Linked DNA regions of Homo sapiens: regions 1, 3 and 4 are each linked to region 2. The links come from fine-mapping of genetic effects on gene expression. A gene starts in region 2. Each other region holds a variant in brackets. All regions are shown on one strand. Distances are between the middles of the regions. Region 1 overlaps STIM2 (stromal interaction molecule 2). Region 2 holds the start of STIM2 (stromal interaction molecule 2). Region 3 has its middle 38 kb from the start of STIM2-AS1. Region 4 overlaps STIM2 (stromal interaction molecule 2).

What was found.
Region 1: its variant is fine-mapped to the expression of STIM2 in whole blood (INTERVAL, PIP above 0.99).
Region 3: its variant is fine-mapped to the expression of STIM2 in whole blood (TOPMed, PIP above 0.99). The same link has a PIP of 0.9 or more in monocytes.
Region 4: its variant is fine-mapped to the expression of STIM2 in whole blood (TOPMed, PIP above 0.99).

Annotation. Positions count from the first base shown.
Region 1 is chr4:26,888,790-26,892,789 of GRCh38, forward strand. The region is part of intron 1 of STIM2 (stromal interaction molecule 2); the gene reads left to right. Among named protein-coding and RNA genes, the nearest start is that of STIM2, 30 kb to the left of the region's middle. The variant T/G (reference allele first, on the strand shown) is at 1,853.
Region 2 is chr4:26,858,928-26,863,011 of GRCh38, forward strand. STIM2 (stromal interaction molecule 2) reads left to right here and starts at 1,914. Exons shown (of 12, transcript NM_020860.4): 1 at 1,914-2,442. The coding sequence starts at 2,292. It overlaps STIM2-AS1 (STIM2 antisense RNA 1), which reads right to left and starts at 1,672. Exons shown (of 2, transcript NR_134674.1): 1 at 1,583-1,672; 2 at 697-1,101. RefSeq lists an enhancer at 1,471-1,570 and silencers at 1,661-2,030, 2,041-2,610.
Region 3 is chr4:26,819,926-26,825,054 of GRCh38, forward strand. It overlaps a transcript of TBC1D19 not described here. Among named protein-coding and RNA genes, the nearest start is that of STIM2-AS1, 38 kb to the right of the region's middle. The variant A/T (reference allele first, on the strand shown) is at 2,826.
Region 4 is chr4:26,929,085-26,933,084 of GRCh38, forward strand. The region is part of intron 2 of STIM2 (stromal interaction molecule 2); the gene reads left to right. Among named protein-coding and RNA genes, the nearest start is that of STIM2, 70 kb to the left of the region's middle. The variant T/A (reference allele first, on the strand shown) is at 1,706.

The DNA.
Region 1 (4,000 bases), 30 kb after region 2:
TCTTTTAATCACAGAGCGTGAAAGTAATTACAAGATCTCTCGTATTCTGGACTTAGTCTTTCATACCTCCATTGTATGGTAGCAGTTGAATTTCTTCTTAGTAACCAGCAACCCTGGTCAGTACACTAACCCTGGGTCTTCTTTGCCTGTTCATTCTGAGGCATGAGGAGTTCAAAGTGGCCAGGTGGTAGTCTTAATGTCGGTTCAGTGGAATCATTCTATCTCCCAGTGGAAACAGTCCTCTTTTTGGAAATAAGGCCTCTAGACCAGCAGAGGATAAGGTTAAAGAATAGGCAACAAAAATTTCGCTAGTGAAACAATAGGGATAATAGTGAGTGGCCCCACTCTTATTTCTCTCTCTGGATTCTGGGATCCATGAATCCTGGCCATGGGAGAAATAGCACCATACATTGGATGCTGATTTAGAGCATACATAGCCTCATGGAAAACATTGCACAAGTTTTTGTCACCTTGCTGACAACGTAACTGAGTCTTCAAAAATCCATTCTACCATTCTATTAAGCCAGCTGCTTCAGGATGATGAGGAACATGGTAAGACCAGTGAATTTTATTAGTATGGGTCCACTGTTACACTTCATGTGCTGTAAAGTGTGTTCCTTGATCAGAAGCAATGCTGTGTGAAGCACCTAGATGGTGGATAAGGCATTCTGTGGGTTTGGCAGAATGCTTGCATGCAGGGAAGAGAAATCCATATCTAGAGTATCTGTTGTAATAAGAACAAAACAGTGCCCCATTCATGATGGCAGTGGTCCAATATAATCAGCCTTTCATGAGATAGTTGGCTGATCACTCTGGGGAACGGTGCCATATCAGGGACTCATTATTGGTTTCTGTAACTGGCAGATTGGGCCTCATTAGCACCTGTAGCCAGGTCGGCCTTGGTACATAGAAGTTCATGTTGCTGAGCCACCTTCCTCCTTCCTATGGCCTCTTCGTTCATGACAGAAGTGGCTAGGGAAAAAAGCTGGCTGGGATCTGCAGAATGAGTTATTCTATCTACTTGATTATTAAAATCCTGCTCTGCTGAGGTCACCTTTTGGTCAGCATTCACGTGGGACACAGATTCCTTCACATTTTTTGCCCAAAGAGGTCTATCTACATTATTTCTCCAGATCCTCTTGTTACCATTTTCCCAATTATGTCCTTCCAATTCTGTGACCATCTAGCTAAACAGTAGGCCACATCCTATGAATTGGTGTACACGGTGGCACCTCTGGCCATTTCTTCTTCCAAGCAAAATGAGAGCCAAGTGTGCTGCCCAAAGTTCTGTCCACAGGAGAGTTTTCCTTCATTACTATCCCTGTCCCAGAAAGGCAGTTAGTGCTACAGCCATCTGCTTTGTGATGGTTTGTGCATATTGTCCACAGTCATCTGTAAACTAGGCCCACTTTTTTTTCTTCGGTCAACTGATAGTAGGAAACTTCCCCTGAGGTCATAGGTGTGGGCTGGGAGAGAGAAGGGAATGTGGTAGGAATGGGGACCGTGGGCATTTGTACAACTTCTTCATATAACTTACTTGAACCTTCAGGGCCTGCTTGATCTTGATCTGTCATATTCCATTTTCATTCAGTGATGGAGTACTGCCATGCATGCCCCACTTTATGAATCGTGGGGCCAGATAGCACCCAGTTCATAATGGGCAGCTCAGGTCTCATGGCAACTCCTTGGCACATTGTTCAGCATTTAGTCTCTAATAAGGCCCCGTAGCAAGCCAAAATCTGTTTCTCAAAAGGAGAGTACTCGGTGGCTCACGCCTGTAATCCCAGCACTTTGGGAGGCCGAGGCGGGTGGATCACGAGGTCAGGAGATCGAGACCATCCCAGCTAAAACG[T/G]TGAAACCCCGTCTCTACTAAAAATACAAAAAATTAGCCGGGCGTAGTGGCGGGCGCCTGTAGTCCCAGCTACTTGGGAGGCTGAGGCAGGAGAATGGCGTGAACCCGGGAGGCGGAGCTTGCAGTGAGCCGAGATCCCGCCACTGCACTCCAGCCTGGGCGACAGAGCGAGACTCCGTCTCAAAAAAAAAAAAAAAAAAAAGGAGAGTACTTTTCCAGAGAGGATGGCAGAGCTTTGCTCTAAGATCCTAAGGGTCTTCACTCTGATTAACCTATATGAGCCTGTCAGTAGAGGCTTCACACAGAAGCTCTATCTGCCTCTGAAACTTGAAGCACTATTGGATCTACTGGATCACATGTCCCAAGTGGCACAGCAGCTTACAATGGCAGCCTAGTCTGTTGCAAAGCCTTTTCTTGTTCTGGGCCACATTCAGAACTAATAGCTTTATAGTTCAGTTTGTGTGATGGATAATTTTTTGTGTGTGTCAACTTGGCTGGTCTGTGGTGTCCAGTTGTTTGGTCAAACACTAGTCTAGATGTTGCATGAAAGTAATTTGTAGATATGATTAGTATCTGTAAGTAGTTATGCTGAGAGATTGCCCTTGATGATATGAGTGGGCCTTATCCAATCAGTTGAAGGCCTTAGGAGCAGAAACTGAGGTTTCCTGAAAAAGAAGTATTTCTGCCTTAAGACTGTAACCTAGACATTTTGCTTGAGTTTCTAGCTTGCTAGCTTGCTCTTGTGACAGAATTTGGACTCAAGTAAAACATAAACTCTTGCCTGCACTACAGATTTCAGACTTGTCAGCCTGTATAATCTTGTGAACTAGTTCCTTAAAATAAATCTCTATATTTATACACATATATGTGTGTTTGTGCATGTATATATACATATAAAGATATGTGTATACATACATACACACACACACACACACACACACACACACACACACACACCCCCTTTTGGTTATTGGTTCTGTTTTTCTAGAAAACCCTGACTGATACACTCAGTAAATGGGCTAGAGTAGCACACCCAAATAAGGAATATGTTGCCTTCCAAATACAAAGAGGCCTACTAGACATTCTGTCTGTCTTGATTTTAGGAGGGACTAGCTAAAACAACTTTTACTTCACATTAGAAGGGATATGTCAACATGTACCACATCACTAGACCCTTAGAAATTTCACCGAGGTGGAAGGCTCCTTGTCTGTTCAGGTGATGTGGGTTGGCTCTGTGTCTCTACCCAAGTCTCATCTTGCGGCTCCCATAATTCCTATGTGTTGTGCGAGGGACCCAGTGGGAGATGATTGAATCTTGGGTGTGGGTCTTTCCCATGCTGTTCTCATGATAGTGAATGGGTCTTGTGAGATCTGATGGTTTTAAAATGGGAGTTTCTCTGCACAAGCTCTGTCTGCCGCTATCTGTGTAAGATGTGACTTGCTCCTCCTTACCTTCTGCCATAATTGTGAGGCCTCCCCAGCCATGCAGAACTGTAAGTCCAGTAAACCTCTTTCTTTTGTAAATTGCCCAGTCTTGGGTATATCTTTATCAGCAGCGTGAAAATGAACGAATACATCAGGCTTTAAGAAATTACCAAAGACTGCGTGGCTTAAACATCAAACATTTATTTCTCACAGCTCTGGAGGCTGAGAAATCCAAGATCAAGGTGCTGGCAGATCCAGTGTCTAGTGAGGGCACTCTTCTGTTTTGCGGCCATCTTTTTGTATCTTCATGTGGTGGACAGCAGAGAGAGCGAGTGAGCTCCTGTTTCATAAGAGCACTAATCCTATTCAAGACGGCGCCACCCTCATGACTGACAGACCTCCCAAAGGTCTCAATTCCTATTATTACTTTGGGAGTTAGGATTTTAACATATGAATTTTTTTGGGGGGGGACGCATATATTCAGTCCATGACACCCCTGGATTTTTGTCTTACTCATTTCTTACCTTCTGACATGCATATGTTTTACCAATAAGCTTAGAGTAATTGCAGTTTCTTGCTCACTAGGTCCAATTAGCATAAGGTCATGAATATAATGGGTTGTTGTGGTGTCTTGTGGAAGGGAAAGTTGATCAAGGTCTCTGGATTAAATTATGACGTAGGGCTGGAAAGTTGATATAACCCTGAGGTAAGAGTGAAAGTGTA
Region 2 (4,084 bases):
CCTGTGATTTGTTAATTTGTTCGTGGTTTTATACTGTTACTACTGTAACAGTTTGCACTACACCATTTAGCAACTGATTACTACTTTGTATTAGCCTCTAATTGTTTAATGGGTGTACATTTTATCTCCTTAAAAAGATTGTAAGATGCCTTAGTCATGGGACTGTGCTGTTTATCTCATAGCCCTGACTGCTGACTTAATTGCCTTTTTCAAGTGTCTCTCTTGCCTAACCCTCACCACTCAGTACTCTGCCTGGCACATACTAGGTACTCAGTAAACATTTAATAAATGAAATGCCTCCTGGAGAGCAGGAACAAGCTTGTTATTTATATTGTTCTGGTCCCCTAGCAGAATTATCTTCTCTGGTGGGCACTCAGCACTCTGGTGTGACTTCATCGCTGTGCCTTTCAGCAGGGGAAATATAATCTCCCGGTTGCCCTATAAAGAATTGCCACCTGAACACTATGCCCACAAGAAGTCTGCTGAGAAATAACTGTTGATAGATTGACTTAGCCTCAAAGACATCCTTGATTCTTTTCTAAAGTGTGCATCTGCCCTTCCACAATAAACGATATTTGTGGTTATCTTGGCCAGGCTACCTAAGAAATACTTTAGGAGAATGTAATTTGAGTATCTTCTTGGCTTGAGAAAGCAAGCAAACAAACCAATAAGCAGAATGAAACCAACAAAACCCAATAGCAAAAGGATCTTCGTGTTTAATAACCCTATCTGCAAATTTTAAACAATTTTGTGCCCCTGGGAGAAAGAATGCCTCCTTGCGTGTGAATTTCCAGGGCTTTTAATTTATAGTGACAGTACATTCAACACTTCCTTTTAAATTTGAAGGGAGGTGGCCTTAAAAATATGCTGGCAACTAGTTTGGATGAGAAAGATTCCGGTTCTTTATTTATTCAAACCAATTAGACCAGGTCTGAACAGGATTTACAACAGAGAGCAGATCTTGGGTGCACAAGAGCTTTGCTTCATTCCAGGTTGGCGAAAACAAGTCAAGTCTACATCATTGTTCTGTCAGCCGGTTCAGGATACAGCACAGAGTCGATGGGATGGGGGTGGGAAGGTGATGAGTTCAGGTAAATGTACCTAGGAGAGTCAGAGGCTAAAGTAAATTCTCTTAAATAGGCCTTTTCAGTGGCTGCTAAATCTCGCTCATTTCCCATGAATTAGCTGTGGGATATTGGGGACAACTTACTTCACATTTCTAGGTCTTAGTCTCTTCATTCGTAAAAGGGGGTAACGATAATTTTGGAGTTATAGCATGTAAATGTGTAAAACGGTTAGAGCAATGCCTGGTACACTCACACATAGCACGCGCTTTGTGAAATGTTTGGCAAGTAAATAAAACGCTAAGCTATGCTAACCGCGTCTAAACAGCCAGCCACTTGTAAGCCCCACCTATATTGAAATTACGGGGACGCTGCTGTTTTCCGATTGCAAGATTTTCCTGATCCATGCAATTACTTTCGCTGCCCTCTACGAGGCTGAAACTCGCCCTCAGGATGTGGGACGTCTGGACTCTTCTCTCCGTCCCCTTGTAGCCCCCCACTCCCCCTCGCGGTGGTACCGTGAATGAGGGAGAGGTACACGTCCCCCTTCTTCCCCGCCTCCTATCTTCGCGGCTCGCTAAAGCGTTATCAGCCGCCCCACGGTACTACCGTCCGTCTAGGAACGCCTCCGGGGCGGGGCTGGGATGCCGCGCACGCGCAGTACAGCAGCGCCGCGCCTGCGCCGTGGAGAGCCTGAGGGAGGCGGGGGATTGGTATGCGAGCGAATGTGCGAGGGGAGGGAGGCGTCCCGGCGGAGCGTGGTACTACGACCAGCGCGGGCCGGAGGGGGCGGGGGGATGCGCCGCGGCGGCGGCGGCGCGGGAGCTGGGGTTGGTGTTTGGCGGCGCCAGAGCAGCGGATCCCGGTCTCGCCGCAGCAGCAGCGCGGGTGTCGTGCACCGCCTGAAGACGCCGTACCTTTCTACCCCCCACCTTTTTTTTTTTTTTTTTTAAATAACCGGAACCAATGAACGCAGCCGGGATCAGAGCTCCGGAGGCCGCCGGTGCCGATGGGACCAGGCTGGCGCCCGGCGGGAGCCCGTGTCTGAGGCGGCGGGGGCGGCCGGAGGAGTCGCCGGCGGCGGTGGTGGCGCCTCGCGGAGCCGGCGAGCTGCAGGCGGCCGGGGCGCCGCTGCGCTTTCACCCGGCTTCTCCTCGGCGCCTTCATCCCGCCTCGACTCCTGGCCCAGCGTGGGGCTGGCTGCTGCGGCGGCGGCGCTGGGCTGCGTTGCTGGTGCTCGGGCTGCTGGTAGCCGGAGCGGCGGACGGATGCGAGCTTGTGCCCCGGCACCTCCGCGGGCGGCGGGCGACTGGCTCTGCCGCAACTGCCGCCTCCTCTCCCGCCGCGGCGGCCGGCGATAGCCCGGCGCTCATGACAGGTGAGGGGCCGGGGGGCGGCGGGCGGGGCTCGGCCGGCAGCGATGGGACCCCCAACCCGTGCAGAGGTCAGCATCTCCGCCGGACGTCCGCTATTCCGCGGCTCCGGCCAGGGCGCGATGCGGAGCCCTGCCTGCTGCTTCGTCGCGGTCCCCTGCACTCCGGACGTCTTTCCTTTTCACCCCGACACCCCGCCCTCGCCGAGCCTCTCGACGGCACTGATTCCCCTCCCTTCAGTCGGGCTCTCCGATCTTCCAAGCTGAGCAATGCGGTGGTTTCTCTTTCGTGCTGCAGAAGTGCCAGCAGGGTCTGCAGGGGACTGGGCTGATTTTTTTTTTTTTTTTTTTTTTGAGGCTGCTAGAAAAAGTCAGCAGCAGCATTGCGGTATTGAGTCTACCTCTGGTGCTGCTTTTGCAAAGGCAGCTGGCAGCGAGTCTCACCGGTTCAAAGCTCCGCTTGAGCACAGCGTCCCAGGGGAGCCTGCTAAAGGGGATTCTTTGAGAGCCATAATACCTAGTGATATTAGTGGTTCCGTGTTAGTATGCAGAAATGCCTAAGTTTACAGTGCATTTTTTGCGGGGTGGAAGGAGGCCGTTTTAAGTGGTGATGGAAAGTGTTTGGTGGTGGGAGCATCACTGGGTGACAAAGGGTGTAGAAACCTCAGCAGGTAACCAGAAATTATACCTAAAATTTGCAAAGTGCAGCATACTCGGGGCTTGCAGCTGGCAGCACAGTTCTGATAGACTGCACTAGCACCTTTTTTTTAATATATAGAACGATCTCATAATTGAAAACTTGGAAACGTGTTTTGTAAGGTTAAGTGCAGAATTGTATCCTTTTTAAAGCCTTCCGGTGTTATGTACAACTGATCAGTTGTGGTTTAAGTAAAAGTTATTATATAAGGACCCTGAAATGATTTCTTTGGGAAAAGTAATGGAGCTAAAATAATGGTTTTTTTTTTTTTTTTTAGTATTTCACTTATTTTTAAAGTAGATCTGTAGATTTCCTACAATAATTGTAAGACTAAAAAGTTTAAAGTGGCAGAAGATGACCCGTGATTAATTTAACCAAAATGATAGTCCTGCGGGCGTCTGGAAGTTACTAACAGCTTCTCTGACAAGTGCTCAGGAACTGTATTCTTTAAAGCCAAGCAGTTTCTCTGATTTCTATGATAGGATATTTACTATTCTAGAGAGAAGAAGGATGTTGGTAAACTTTAAAAGCTTTGGAGGATGTAGAGTATAGAACATAATGGTCAGCATGTTTAACTTTACCCTGAAGCATATCAAGCCCTATTAAATGGAACTTGATACATCAAACCTACCAATTGGGTAACTGGGATAAAGTGATTATAGAATAATCAGTATTAGGAGCATAGTACAGTTTGAGTGAGAAGATAGGTCAGACAGCTTTATGCTTGAATAGTATTTATTCTCCAAATAAAAATGTGGCAAGTAACAGTATAGTGAAGAATAGTGATTATTAGGAAAGTTGATAAATAAGACTATAATTTGAAGATTTAATGCCTCATGCAGGAAGGGAAGGAGCAGGAATATTTAGGCTTCTAGAAGGTATAAGTGGTTCTAGGTTTCTCGAGCAGAAAAATGTGGTTAATACATAATTGGCTAATGCTCTGTGAAAAAG
Region 3 (5,129 bases), 38 kb before region 2:
CATGACTTTCTTACTCACCAATTTCGGTCCTTTTCTCAAATAACCCCTTCTCAGTGAGGCCTTCCCATTCCTACTCTAAAATTGCAAACTTCAACATTTTTCTCTCTGCTTTGCTTTTTAATGGACAATAATTACATATAATTGTGGGGTACAATGTGATGCTTTGATCTATGTGTACATTGTAGAAAGATTCATTCAAGCTAATTGACATATCCGTTATCTTAGTAACTTACTTTTTGGAGGATGAGAACATTAAAAATCTATGCTTTTAGCAATTATGAAATATGTGATACATTGTTATTCACTATGGTTACCATGCAGTACAAGAGATCACTAAAACTTATTCTTGCAGTCTGAAACTTTGTACTGTTTGTTCAACATCTTTTCTTCCCCATCTCTTCCCTTCTCCACCTGCCCACCCCTATCCTCCAACCTGGACCCTAGCTTTTGGCATCTTTCTACTCTATTTTTATGAGATTGACTTTTCTAGAGTCCACATGTAAGTTGAGATCATACAGTATTAGCCTTTCTGTGCCTGACTTATTTCGACCAAGCATAACATCCTCCAGTTCCATCATGTTGTTGTGAATGGCAGAGTTTCCTTCTTTTTAAAGGCTGTATAGTATTCCATTGTACATAAATACCACATTTTAAAAATCTATTTATCCATTGATGGGCACTGAGGCTCTTGTGAATCATGCTGAAATGAATGTGGTAGTGCAGATATCTCTTTGACATACCAATTTCAATTCTTTTGGATATATGCACAGAAGTGGGATTGCTGGATCATATGCTAATTCTATATGTAGTTTTTTTGAGGAACCTCCATGCTGCTTTCCAAAATGGTGGTACTAATTTCCCTCTCTCTGTTTACTTTTCACCATAGCACCTACTCCATAAAATATATTATATGTTTAACTCATTTGGTGATCATCTTTACCCCCATTAGACTGTAAGCTTCATCAGTACAGGGATTTGTTTTCACAGCTGTCTTCTCAGTGCCCAGAACATCACCTGGAATACAGTGGGCATATAAAAATATCTGTTGACTGGCTACCAAATGAATGGTATTCACTCGACTCAGCTTTCTGTATCCCTCTGGCCCCTACACTGCATTTAGTGTAGGGATGCATGGGTGCCAATATGGCGCCTGGAAGAAAGGACGTTTGCAATCAAGCATGCACATGAAGAGCAGTTAGCAGTTCCAGACTGTATGAAAGCTTCTCGTGTCCTTGCCACACTTTCTTTTGAGGGTCTCACCCCACATCTTAGCAAAGATATTTAAATGCTCCTCCCTTCCCCATGAAACAGAATTTTGGCTGAGATTTTTTCAAAGGAGTATCATAGTTTTGTCTTTGAAATCATTTGGCAAGGAACAACTCATTGAATTTTCAGTTGGCTCTGATTCTCTGCAGTCATCATGCACACTTGAAGTAAAACAAAATCTACCATTAACATTGTTTTCAAATGTAATGAAATTTTTCTAAATAATTCAACAGTTGATCACATAAGTGTAATTCTGTGCTTTGTGGGCATTCATGTAAACAGGTATTTATTTTAACAGGTTTTGTAGTACTCCTTGTGTGTTTGAGGCAGTAATTATTTTCCTTTGGGATTTAGCCATGTTTCTGGGCTCTTGAAATCTCACAGGACCTAGATCTTGGACCTGGAAAATTAGGCAGATAAAATAGTCCTGCAAGAATGAGAGACTGGAGAAAGGTCTCCCTGCACTTGCCTGCGAATGCAGGTCCTGGCCCAGTGGTTCAATGGTGGGGCTGTCCTGTAACTGTGCCAGGGAGTCAGAAGCCATGGCGGGGCTCACCGTGGTCATGCTGGAAGTCCCTGTCCCTGTCTGCTCATCACACACAGGTCAGCAGGTACCCGTTCTTTATGTGTGGCAGACCTCTGGTGGCCAGGCGGACCACTTTTCTCCACGGCCCTTCTCTCTCCACTTCCACCTGCATGCTCTCCTGAGCCCTGGTGGCAGAAATGTTTTCCTTGACATTTTATGACACTTTGGCAGAATTCTGTTGACTCATCTAAGACAAGATGGGGAATTGTTCTGCAGCAGTCGCCACATGGGGAAACAGATCACTTAGTCACATCATCTGCCAAGCCCCGCTGTTGCCTGTGCAAAGCATTTCTAATCACGGAAACTTGAAAGCTGTCCCTCATTTGTGATGACATTAGCCATGGTGATTTTTTACCCCTGTCTTAAGCTGTCAGTCGCTGGGGTTTTCTTGTTACTCTCTCTGGCAGAGACACATTTATTTATCACACAAAAGCCTGGCTCTGAAGGGATTTGTGCAAACTTCCTTCTGGAGATGAAAAGAAAACATCTCCTTCCTGGCCTGTGCCATCTACTGAAAAGCTTTCCAAGCCAAATGTGAGTGACTGTCCTAGTGGACAGATGTCACCCAGAGCAGGCCTGAATCATTTTGTTTGTTTTTCTTGCTAACCCAACACGACTTTGAACCCACTTCATTAATAAGAGAGACAGGAGCACGAAACCCTTTTTACTTCCTGCTTTCTTCCCAGTGTGCTGACATTTCCAAGCCCCATATGTTTCCCTAAATAAAGTTCCATGGAAATATATATTTTTTTGAAAAATCCTGTTTTTGGGTTATTACAGCCCAAGAGGAAAAAAGGCTGCCAGTGGACTATGTAGGGCCCTTTACGTAATGCTATGATTGTTTCGACCCCTCTTGATAACAGCAGGCTCGTTTAAATGGTTAACGTTGAGATGCGGTTGAAGACCTGTAATAAATGTATACTTCTTCATTTAGGCAAGTACATTAGCTACAGTCAATCTGCAACAGCGGGGA[A/T]GCACTAAGCCACAAACAGGAAATAGTTTGAATAAATATTTCCCATTCTAAAATGAATGACTAGATAGAGTTTAAAACATGTCAGACTCTTGTAGAGACATGATAGACATTTGCTGGTTACCTCTCCAGCAGGGATCCAGTCCCACCCTTCCCCACCTTGATTTTCCTTGGGATCACTCTACCCTTCCACTCTCAATAGTGGTCCAGACCAGACTGACCCTGCCCAGGAGTAGACTGTACTTGACTCAAGCTGTATTAGTTTGTTTCCACGCTGCTAATAAAGACATACCCAAGACTGGGCAATTTACAAAGAAAGAGGTTTAATGGACTTACAGTTCCACGTGGCTGGGGAGGCCTCACAATCATGGCAGAAGGCAAGGAGGAGCAAGTCACATCTTACATGGATGGCAACAGGCAAACAGAGAGAGCTTGTGCAGGAAAACTCCCATTTTTAAAATCATCAGATCTCGTGAAACTTATTCACTATTGCAAGAACAGCGGGAAAGACCTGCCCCCATGATTCAATTACCTCCCACCGGGTCCCTCCCACAACACGTGGGCATTCAAGCTGAGATTTGGGTGGGGATGCAGCCAAAACATATCTCAAACCCATCCATGTACCTATTCCTCAGGCCACATTGATTGGTCAGGGATGGGTTTGTGATACAATTTGGGTTAATGAGAGAGGTGACAATAACAGTGTTTCTGTGGAAGATACACAGAAGAGATTCTCTGTTCCCAGACCACACCTAGAGTGAAGTGAAGATGTGGGGTGTGGAATTGCCAGAGCAATTTGCTACCATGGGGAGAGAGCCCAGAGTTGCGGGGGCCTTTGTGTGGAATCTGGAGATGGGTCTGTCACCAGTGGAGAGATGATAAGAGCCATATCCTGGGTGGCTTTGACCCACTAGAAGCCAGTCTTGCCTCTGGACTTCTCAGCTAGGTGAGCCAATAAATTATCTTTGCTGCTTAAGCTTGTTCTAGGTTTTCTGTCACTTGCAACCACAAGAGTCCTAAGTGATTTAAGGTTGCTAACACTCTTTCTAGCCAGACCTTAGGCAGCATCTAAAGAAACTGAAAGCTTGTCGTCAGTGTATTTTTGTTTCTTTGTTATGGTTTTTACCTCTGCAGGATTCCTCCCCTCTTCCTTCTTTATACAGAACCCCACTGACTCTTAGTGAGCCACCCGGGCTGACTGCCTGACCGCTGGCTCCAGTGATGGGCACATGGCCCAGGCATAACTAATAGGGCATTCCATTCACAGGGCTATTTGATTGGATCAGGGATGGGTGCATGATCCCAAGATGGCCAGTATAAATAAGATCCAGGAATTTATTTTAACTCTTACTTAAAAGACAATTGGCTGGATTTGCTGAGGGAAGATTTAAACATCTTTGTGGACATGTTTGCCACCACATGGGGAGAGCATTCCTGAACATGCAGCAATAGAGAACAAAGACGAGAGATAAAGAGATGATAAGAGAAGGACCAAGTTCTAGCAACAGTGCGTGAGGCCTGAATCCAGCCATGCCGGAAGCATGTGAAGCAGTAACTTCGTTCTTATTAAGACAACTGCAGCTGGATTTTCTGTCATTTGCAGTTTCAAATGTTGACTAACACAGATATGAAGTATCTTTTCACAGTAATATATTTCTCTCTATCATAATATTCTTATTTTCTACTAGTATAAAACTAATGAATGCTCAATGCAGAAAATCCAGAAAACAAACAAACAAAAATAAATAAAGCAAAATTCACTTGTAGTCCTATGACTCTGAAATTATGACCGTCAGCTTCTGAGTGTATGTCCTCTGGGTCTTTTTCGTATGCATATTTATGAACTTCTACAACATAGTTTCCACATTATATTACTGCACTACAATTTAGTTAATTCCTTCTTTTTAACAGTGGGGTCATTTTCTTTCTTTCTTTCTTTTTTTTTTGCTATCATTTACTTCTTAGTATTATGAACATCTGTGTTGATACATCTTTGCACATATTTCTGGACATTCCTTAGAATAAATTCACATGGCCATATGCATAGTAAGTTCTTCATTAAACTTTTTCCAATTTTGTATTCCACATAACATTTAAGCAAACATGTTTATGCATTCCTTTGTATAGAATAAACTTCTAGAAGTACAATTGCTGGGTACAGAGCATGCCTGTTTAACGATATACATTGCCAAACTGCTCTGCAGAAGGTTATTTAAATTTATAACAAGGCAGCTCTTCCACACACACTGGATATTCCTGTCACCTCAATTACTAGACGAATGTTTTCTTTTTATGTTTGTTGGCTAT
Region 4 (4,000 bases), 70 kb after region 2:
CTTATATGAGAAGAATAATATTAAATATCTAATTTGAAAATATTGATTACCTGTTGGAGATATTTTAGACATATTGGGTTACATGAAATATAATATTAAAATTTACTTCCTTTGTTTTTACTCAGTGTAACTTCTAGAAAACAAAATTATGTATGTAGCTCACATTTTATTTCTATTAGCACTGATCTAGGCTCTGTGTGATGTGTTTGTATGCTTTAAAGGATGAATTATTAATTCTGCAGTTCTTGTACTATAGTCCTTCAGTTCAATATAGGTGCATTTTGGTTTGTATTTCTTGTTAAGGTGTCTTTTTGAAAGAAATAAGCAATAATTATTTTATGGACCTTTACTGGCCTTCACTAGGAGACTTTATACGTTTGATAGGAAACCTTAGCCCAAATTTTAAAGTACTTAATTTCTTGTGATTTTAGCCCAAATTTTAAAGTACTTAATTTCTTGTGATTTTTGTTTTGTTTTGAAATGTTGCTTTTCTAAAAAAAATTCAGAAAAGTATTTAGCATTTGAAAATTCTGTTTAAAAACTTATTTTTTTTTCTCTTTAGTATCCTCTGTTTTGTATTTGGTCATATGAAAAATTCTTTATTTTTATAATTTATTTAATATTGAGCTAATATCTGATGGCCTATTTTATACCAGATACTCAAATAGTTGCTTGGAATAGATTAGGAACAAGATAGACAAAATCTGTGCCTTTAAGTGAACATTCAGGTAGGGCTTGTGGGAAGGAGACTAAACAAAATAAGTAAGCAGGGGCAGGGGGATCATTATCAGTTAGAGATGATGGGGGCTGTAATGTTCTATAGGGTGGCAGGCAAAGTGAGGGTAACACTTAAAGTGTATCATGTGTACAGTACTTGGACAAATAAGAGAATAAATGTCTGATAACTTTCCAGGGCTATGTTAAAACTGAATTTGGAGTACTTTGGGTGCTTCAGATCAGGAATAGGATATAAAGCTTTTGCTGTCTAGGTCATCATCTTCTGGACCAACATAAAAAAGGTTAGATGTCAATGTGTGCAGAATCTGTGATCTGTTAAGATTGAATTGTTGATTGCATTCAAGGCTGCACGGTCTGTCAATTTTAGTGAAATTTTGGAAAGTGTAGGTATTTGGTCAACAAATAATTTAAATAAGAGAAATTAATGGTTTTGTTGCCCTGAGCACAGCAGTGGAGTTCACATTGTTATTGCTCATTTTGTGACTGAAAAGTTTTATCATAGATTCTAGTGTATATGAATTTTGTTTTCTGTTCTTACCTTTCCCTCTTTTTCTTTGAATGAACATTTTTTTCATTCCTTTCCTTGTTCTAGTTTTTCTTTGTTTTTATTTATTCTTTTTCATTTTACCACCTGGAATAGGTAGTTTTAGAGGTTTTTTTTTATCAGTTTGTTTGATATACATATATAAAACAAAATCAACTTTAAGACCTACTTATCTGAAAAGTCCATTGTACCTAGTATTTCAGTATTCCTTATGTTACATATGCTGCCTTCACAATACATTCTTTGCCATGATTTTTATACCTGTTGGAAAGCTTAGTTAACAACACAGATGTGTCTGTGGAGAGTCACTTAAGAAAATAGGCAAAATTAGGATTAGACAAAAAAGAAGGCAATGCATTTTAAAATTGAACAGTGTGTTTTGAATTATGTGGGGTATTGTGTCCAAAAGATTAAATACATATA[T/A]TTTTTGCTGAAGTTTTCTAAGGTTAACTTTTAACTTATGTGTTAGTTTATTGCTATGTAACAAATGACCCCAAAACTTAGTGGCTTAAAGCAACACACATTTCTCATTTCATGGTTTCTGTGGGTCAGAAATCTTAGTGCAGCTTAGGTGGGTCTTCTGGCTCTGGGTCTTTCACAGGGCTGCAATTAAGATATCAGCTGGGGTTGTGTCATCTCAAGGCCTGATTAGGGGAGGATCCACTTAAAAACCTACTCATATAGCTGTTAGTCTCAGAGGTCCTCAATGGCTGTTGGAGATACCAGTTTTCTGCCGTATAAGTCTCTCTGTAGGCAGTTTATAACATGACAATGGGGTTCCCTCAGCCCACTGTTTCACTCTCTCAGAGTGAGAGGGAGCTCTGAGAGAAAGAGAAGGGGCAGTAATGTGGACGTCATAATCTTTTTGTGACTAATGCTGGAAGTGACGTCCCATCACTTTTGCTGTATTCTACTCATGGGAAGTGAGTTACTAGGTCCAGCCAACCATCACGGGGAGACAAATACAAGGATGTGGGTATCATTGGGAGCCATTTCAGAGACTGCTTACCACAGTTTATTTTGATAATTTACTAACTAGAAATATTTGATGGGAGATTCTCAAGCCATAGAAATATAGAGTATAAAAGCAGTAAAGTTATAAAATTTCCTTTAAAAGGCTTTGTTTTGGAAATGTCCCACAATAAAACCCATTGTGTTCATCTTTGTAATAGGATATGTGTAGAATTTTAAAGCCTGATTAAAAGTTATCTATTGAGTAGAGCTTTGCAGTGAATGGTGACTCTAATTACATGCACAAATGTACCAGTGTAATTTGTTTGACTGAAGGATCACTTGACATTCTTCTGAAAGAACAAGCAGGGCAAAGGGAAGGGAAGGGCATAGGTGCTAGAGAAGTCTTGCTGTCTATTAACTTACAGTTACTGAGGTACTTTCCTATATACTGAAATTTTCATAATTTCATGATTTGTTTAGTTAATATAACGATACCATAAAAATAGAGACTTTAATTCTTTCTGGAAAATAATGGCAATCAGCACACAATTAAAGTAGCAGAGAATGTTAGTAAGTGTTTTATGGGAAAATGGATTACGTGGTCAAAATTGGGAAATGCTGGATTAGTTTTGTAGGACTTCTTAAACTTAAATTTATAGATTTATATACTAAGATAACATTTATTGAGCATTTACTATTTGTTCCATCGTATAAGCACTTTTGTATGTACTATGGTATGGACTCCTTATAACAACTGTATTAGCTAAGAATCTACTCTTATTATCTTATATGCAGATGAGGAAACAGTTTGGTGGATTAGGCAATATGCCCATAGTTACAAGCTTGTAAATGATAGAGTTGAGGTTTTGAAGCCAGGCCAACTCCAGAACCCATGTTCTTGACTTCTAGTGTTTCTTGTTTCTCTGTGTTAATGTAGATTATTAATCTTCAAAGGATGGTGAATCTTAACGTCTGTTTGACAAGGAACTTTTGTAATACAAACTGTCTCTTAAGTTTGGCATAATGTAAGTGGTCAGTCGGTTTTTGTTTGAGTTTTTTTTCCTGAAAATTGATAATTGCTACCAAAATAACACCACACAGATTTTTCAGTGACTTTAACATAACTCGTTAGTACTGACACTAAACTTACTGTAGCATCTGATCAAAGATAAAGTCATTTTAGCAATTGATAAATTGAACATCGTTTGCTAAATTTGATGCTTTTGTTTTGCATTTATTAAATTTTTCATGGTAGTATATCTTGGCTATAAATGTCTAAATAGTACTTAATAAGCATCTAATAAATGTTTGTTTAACGAATGAATATTGGAAAATCAAACTTTTGGAATGGCCTGGGCCTGTAAGTGACCATGGAGAGCCCATGGTGATCATGGGTTAGGAGCACTCTCTGGAGCTAAGCAGCAGCAGCAACTGCTTAGTACTTGTCAACAACAGAAAAATAATTAAGAGCTGAAGAAACTAACTTCGGTTCAGCAGTCTTTTATTGAGCACCTATTGTCTGCCAGACAGTGTGCTAGATGTTGGCTTTGCAAAGATAAACAAAGGCATCTGGTCATTTCATGGAAAAAACACATAACGACTTGTCCTGAAAGAACTGAGAAGTAATAAAGAATCAATGTGTACATGAGAGACTAGAAGTGAGAAAAGACATGAGAAAGCAGCAGATTAATGCTGGTATGATCTGTGGATATCAAGAAAGTAAGGCAACAGTGGAAAACATAAAAGAGCTTGTGGGAGAGTGAA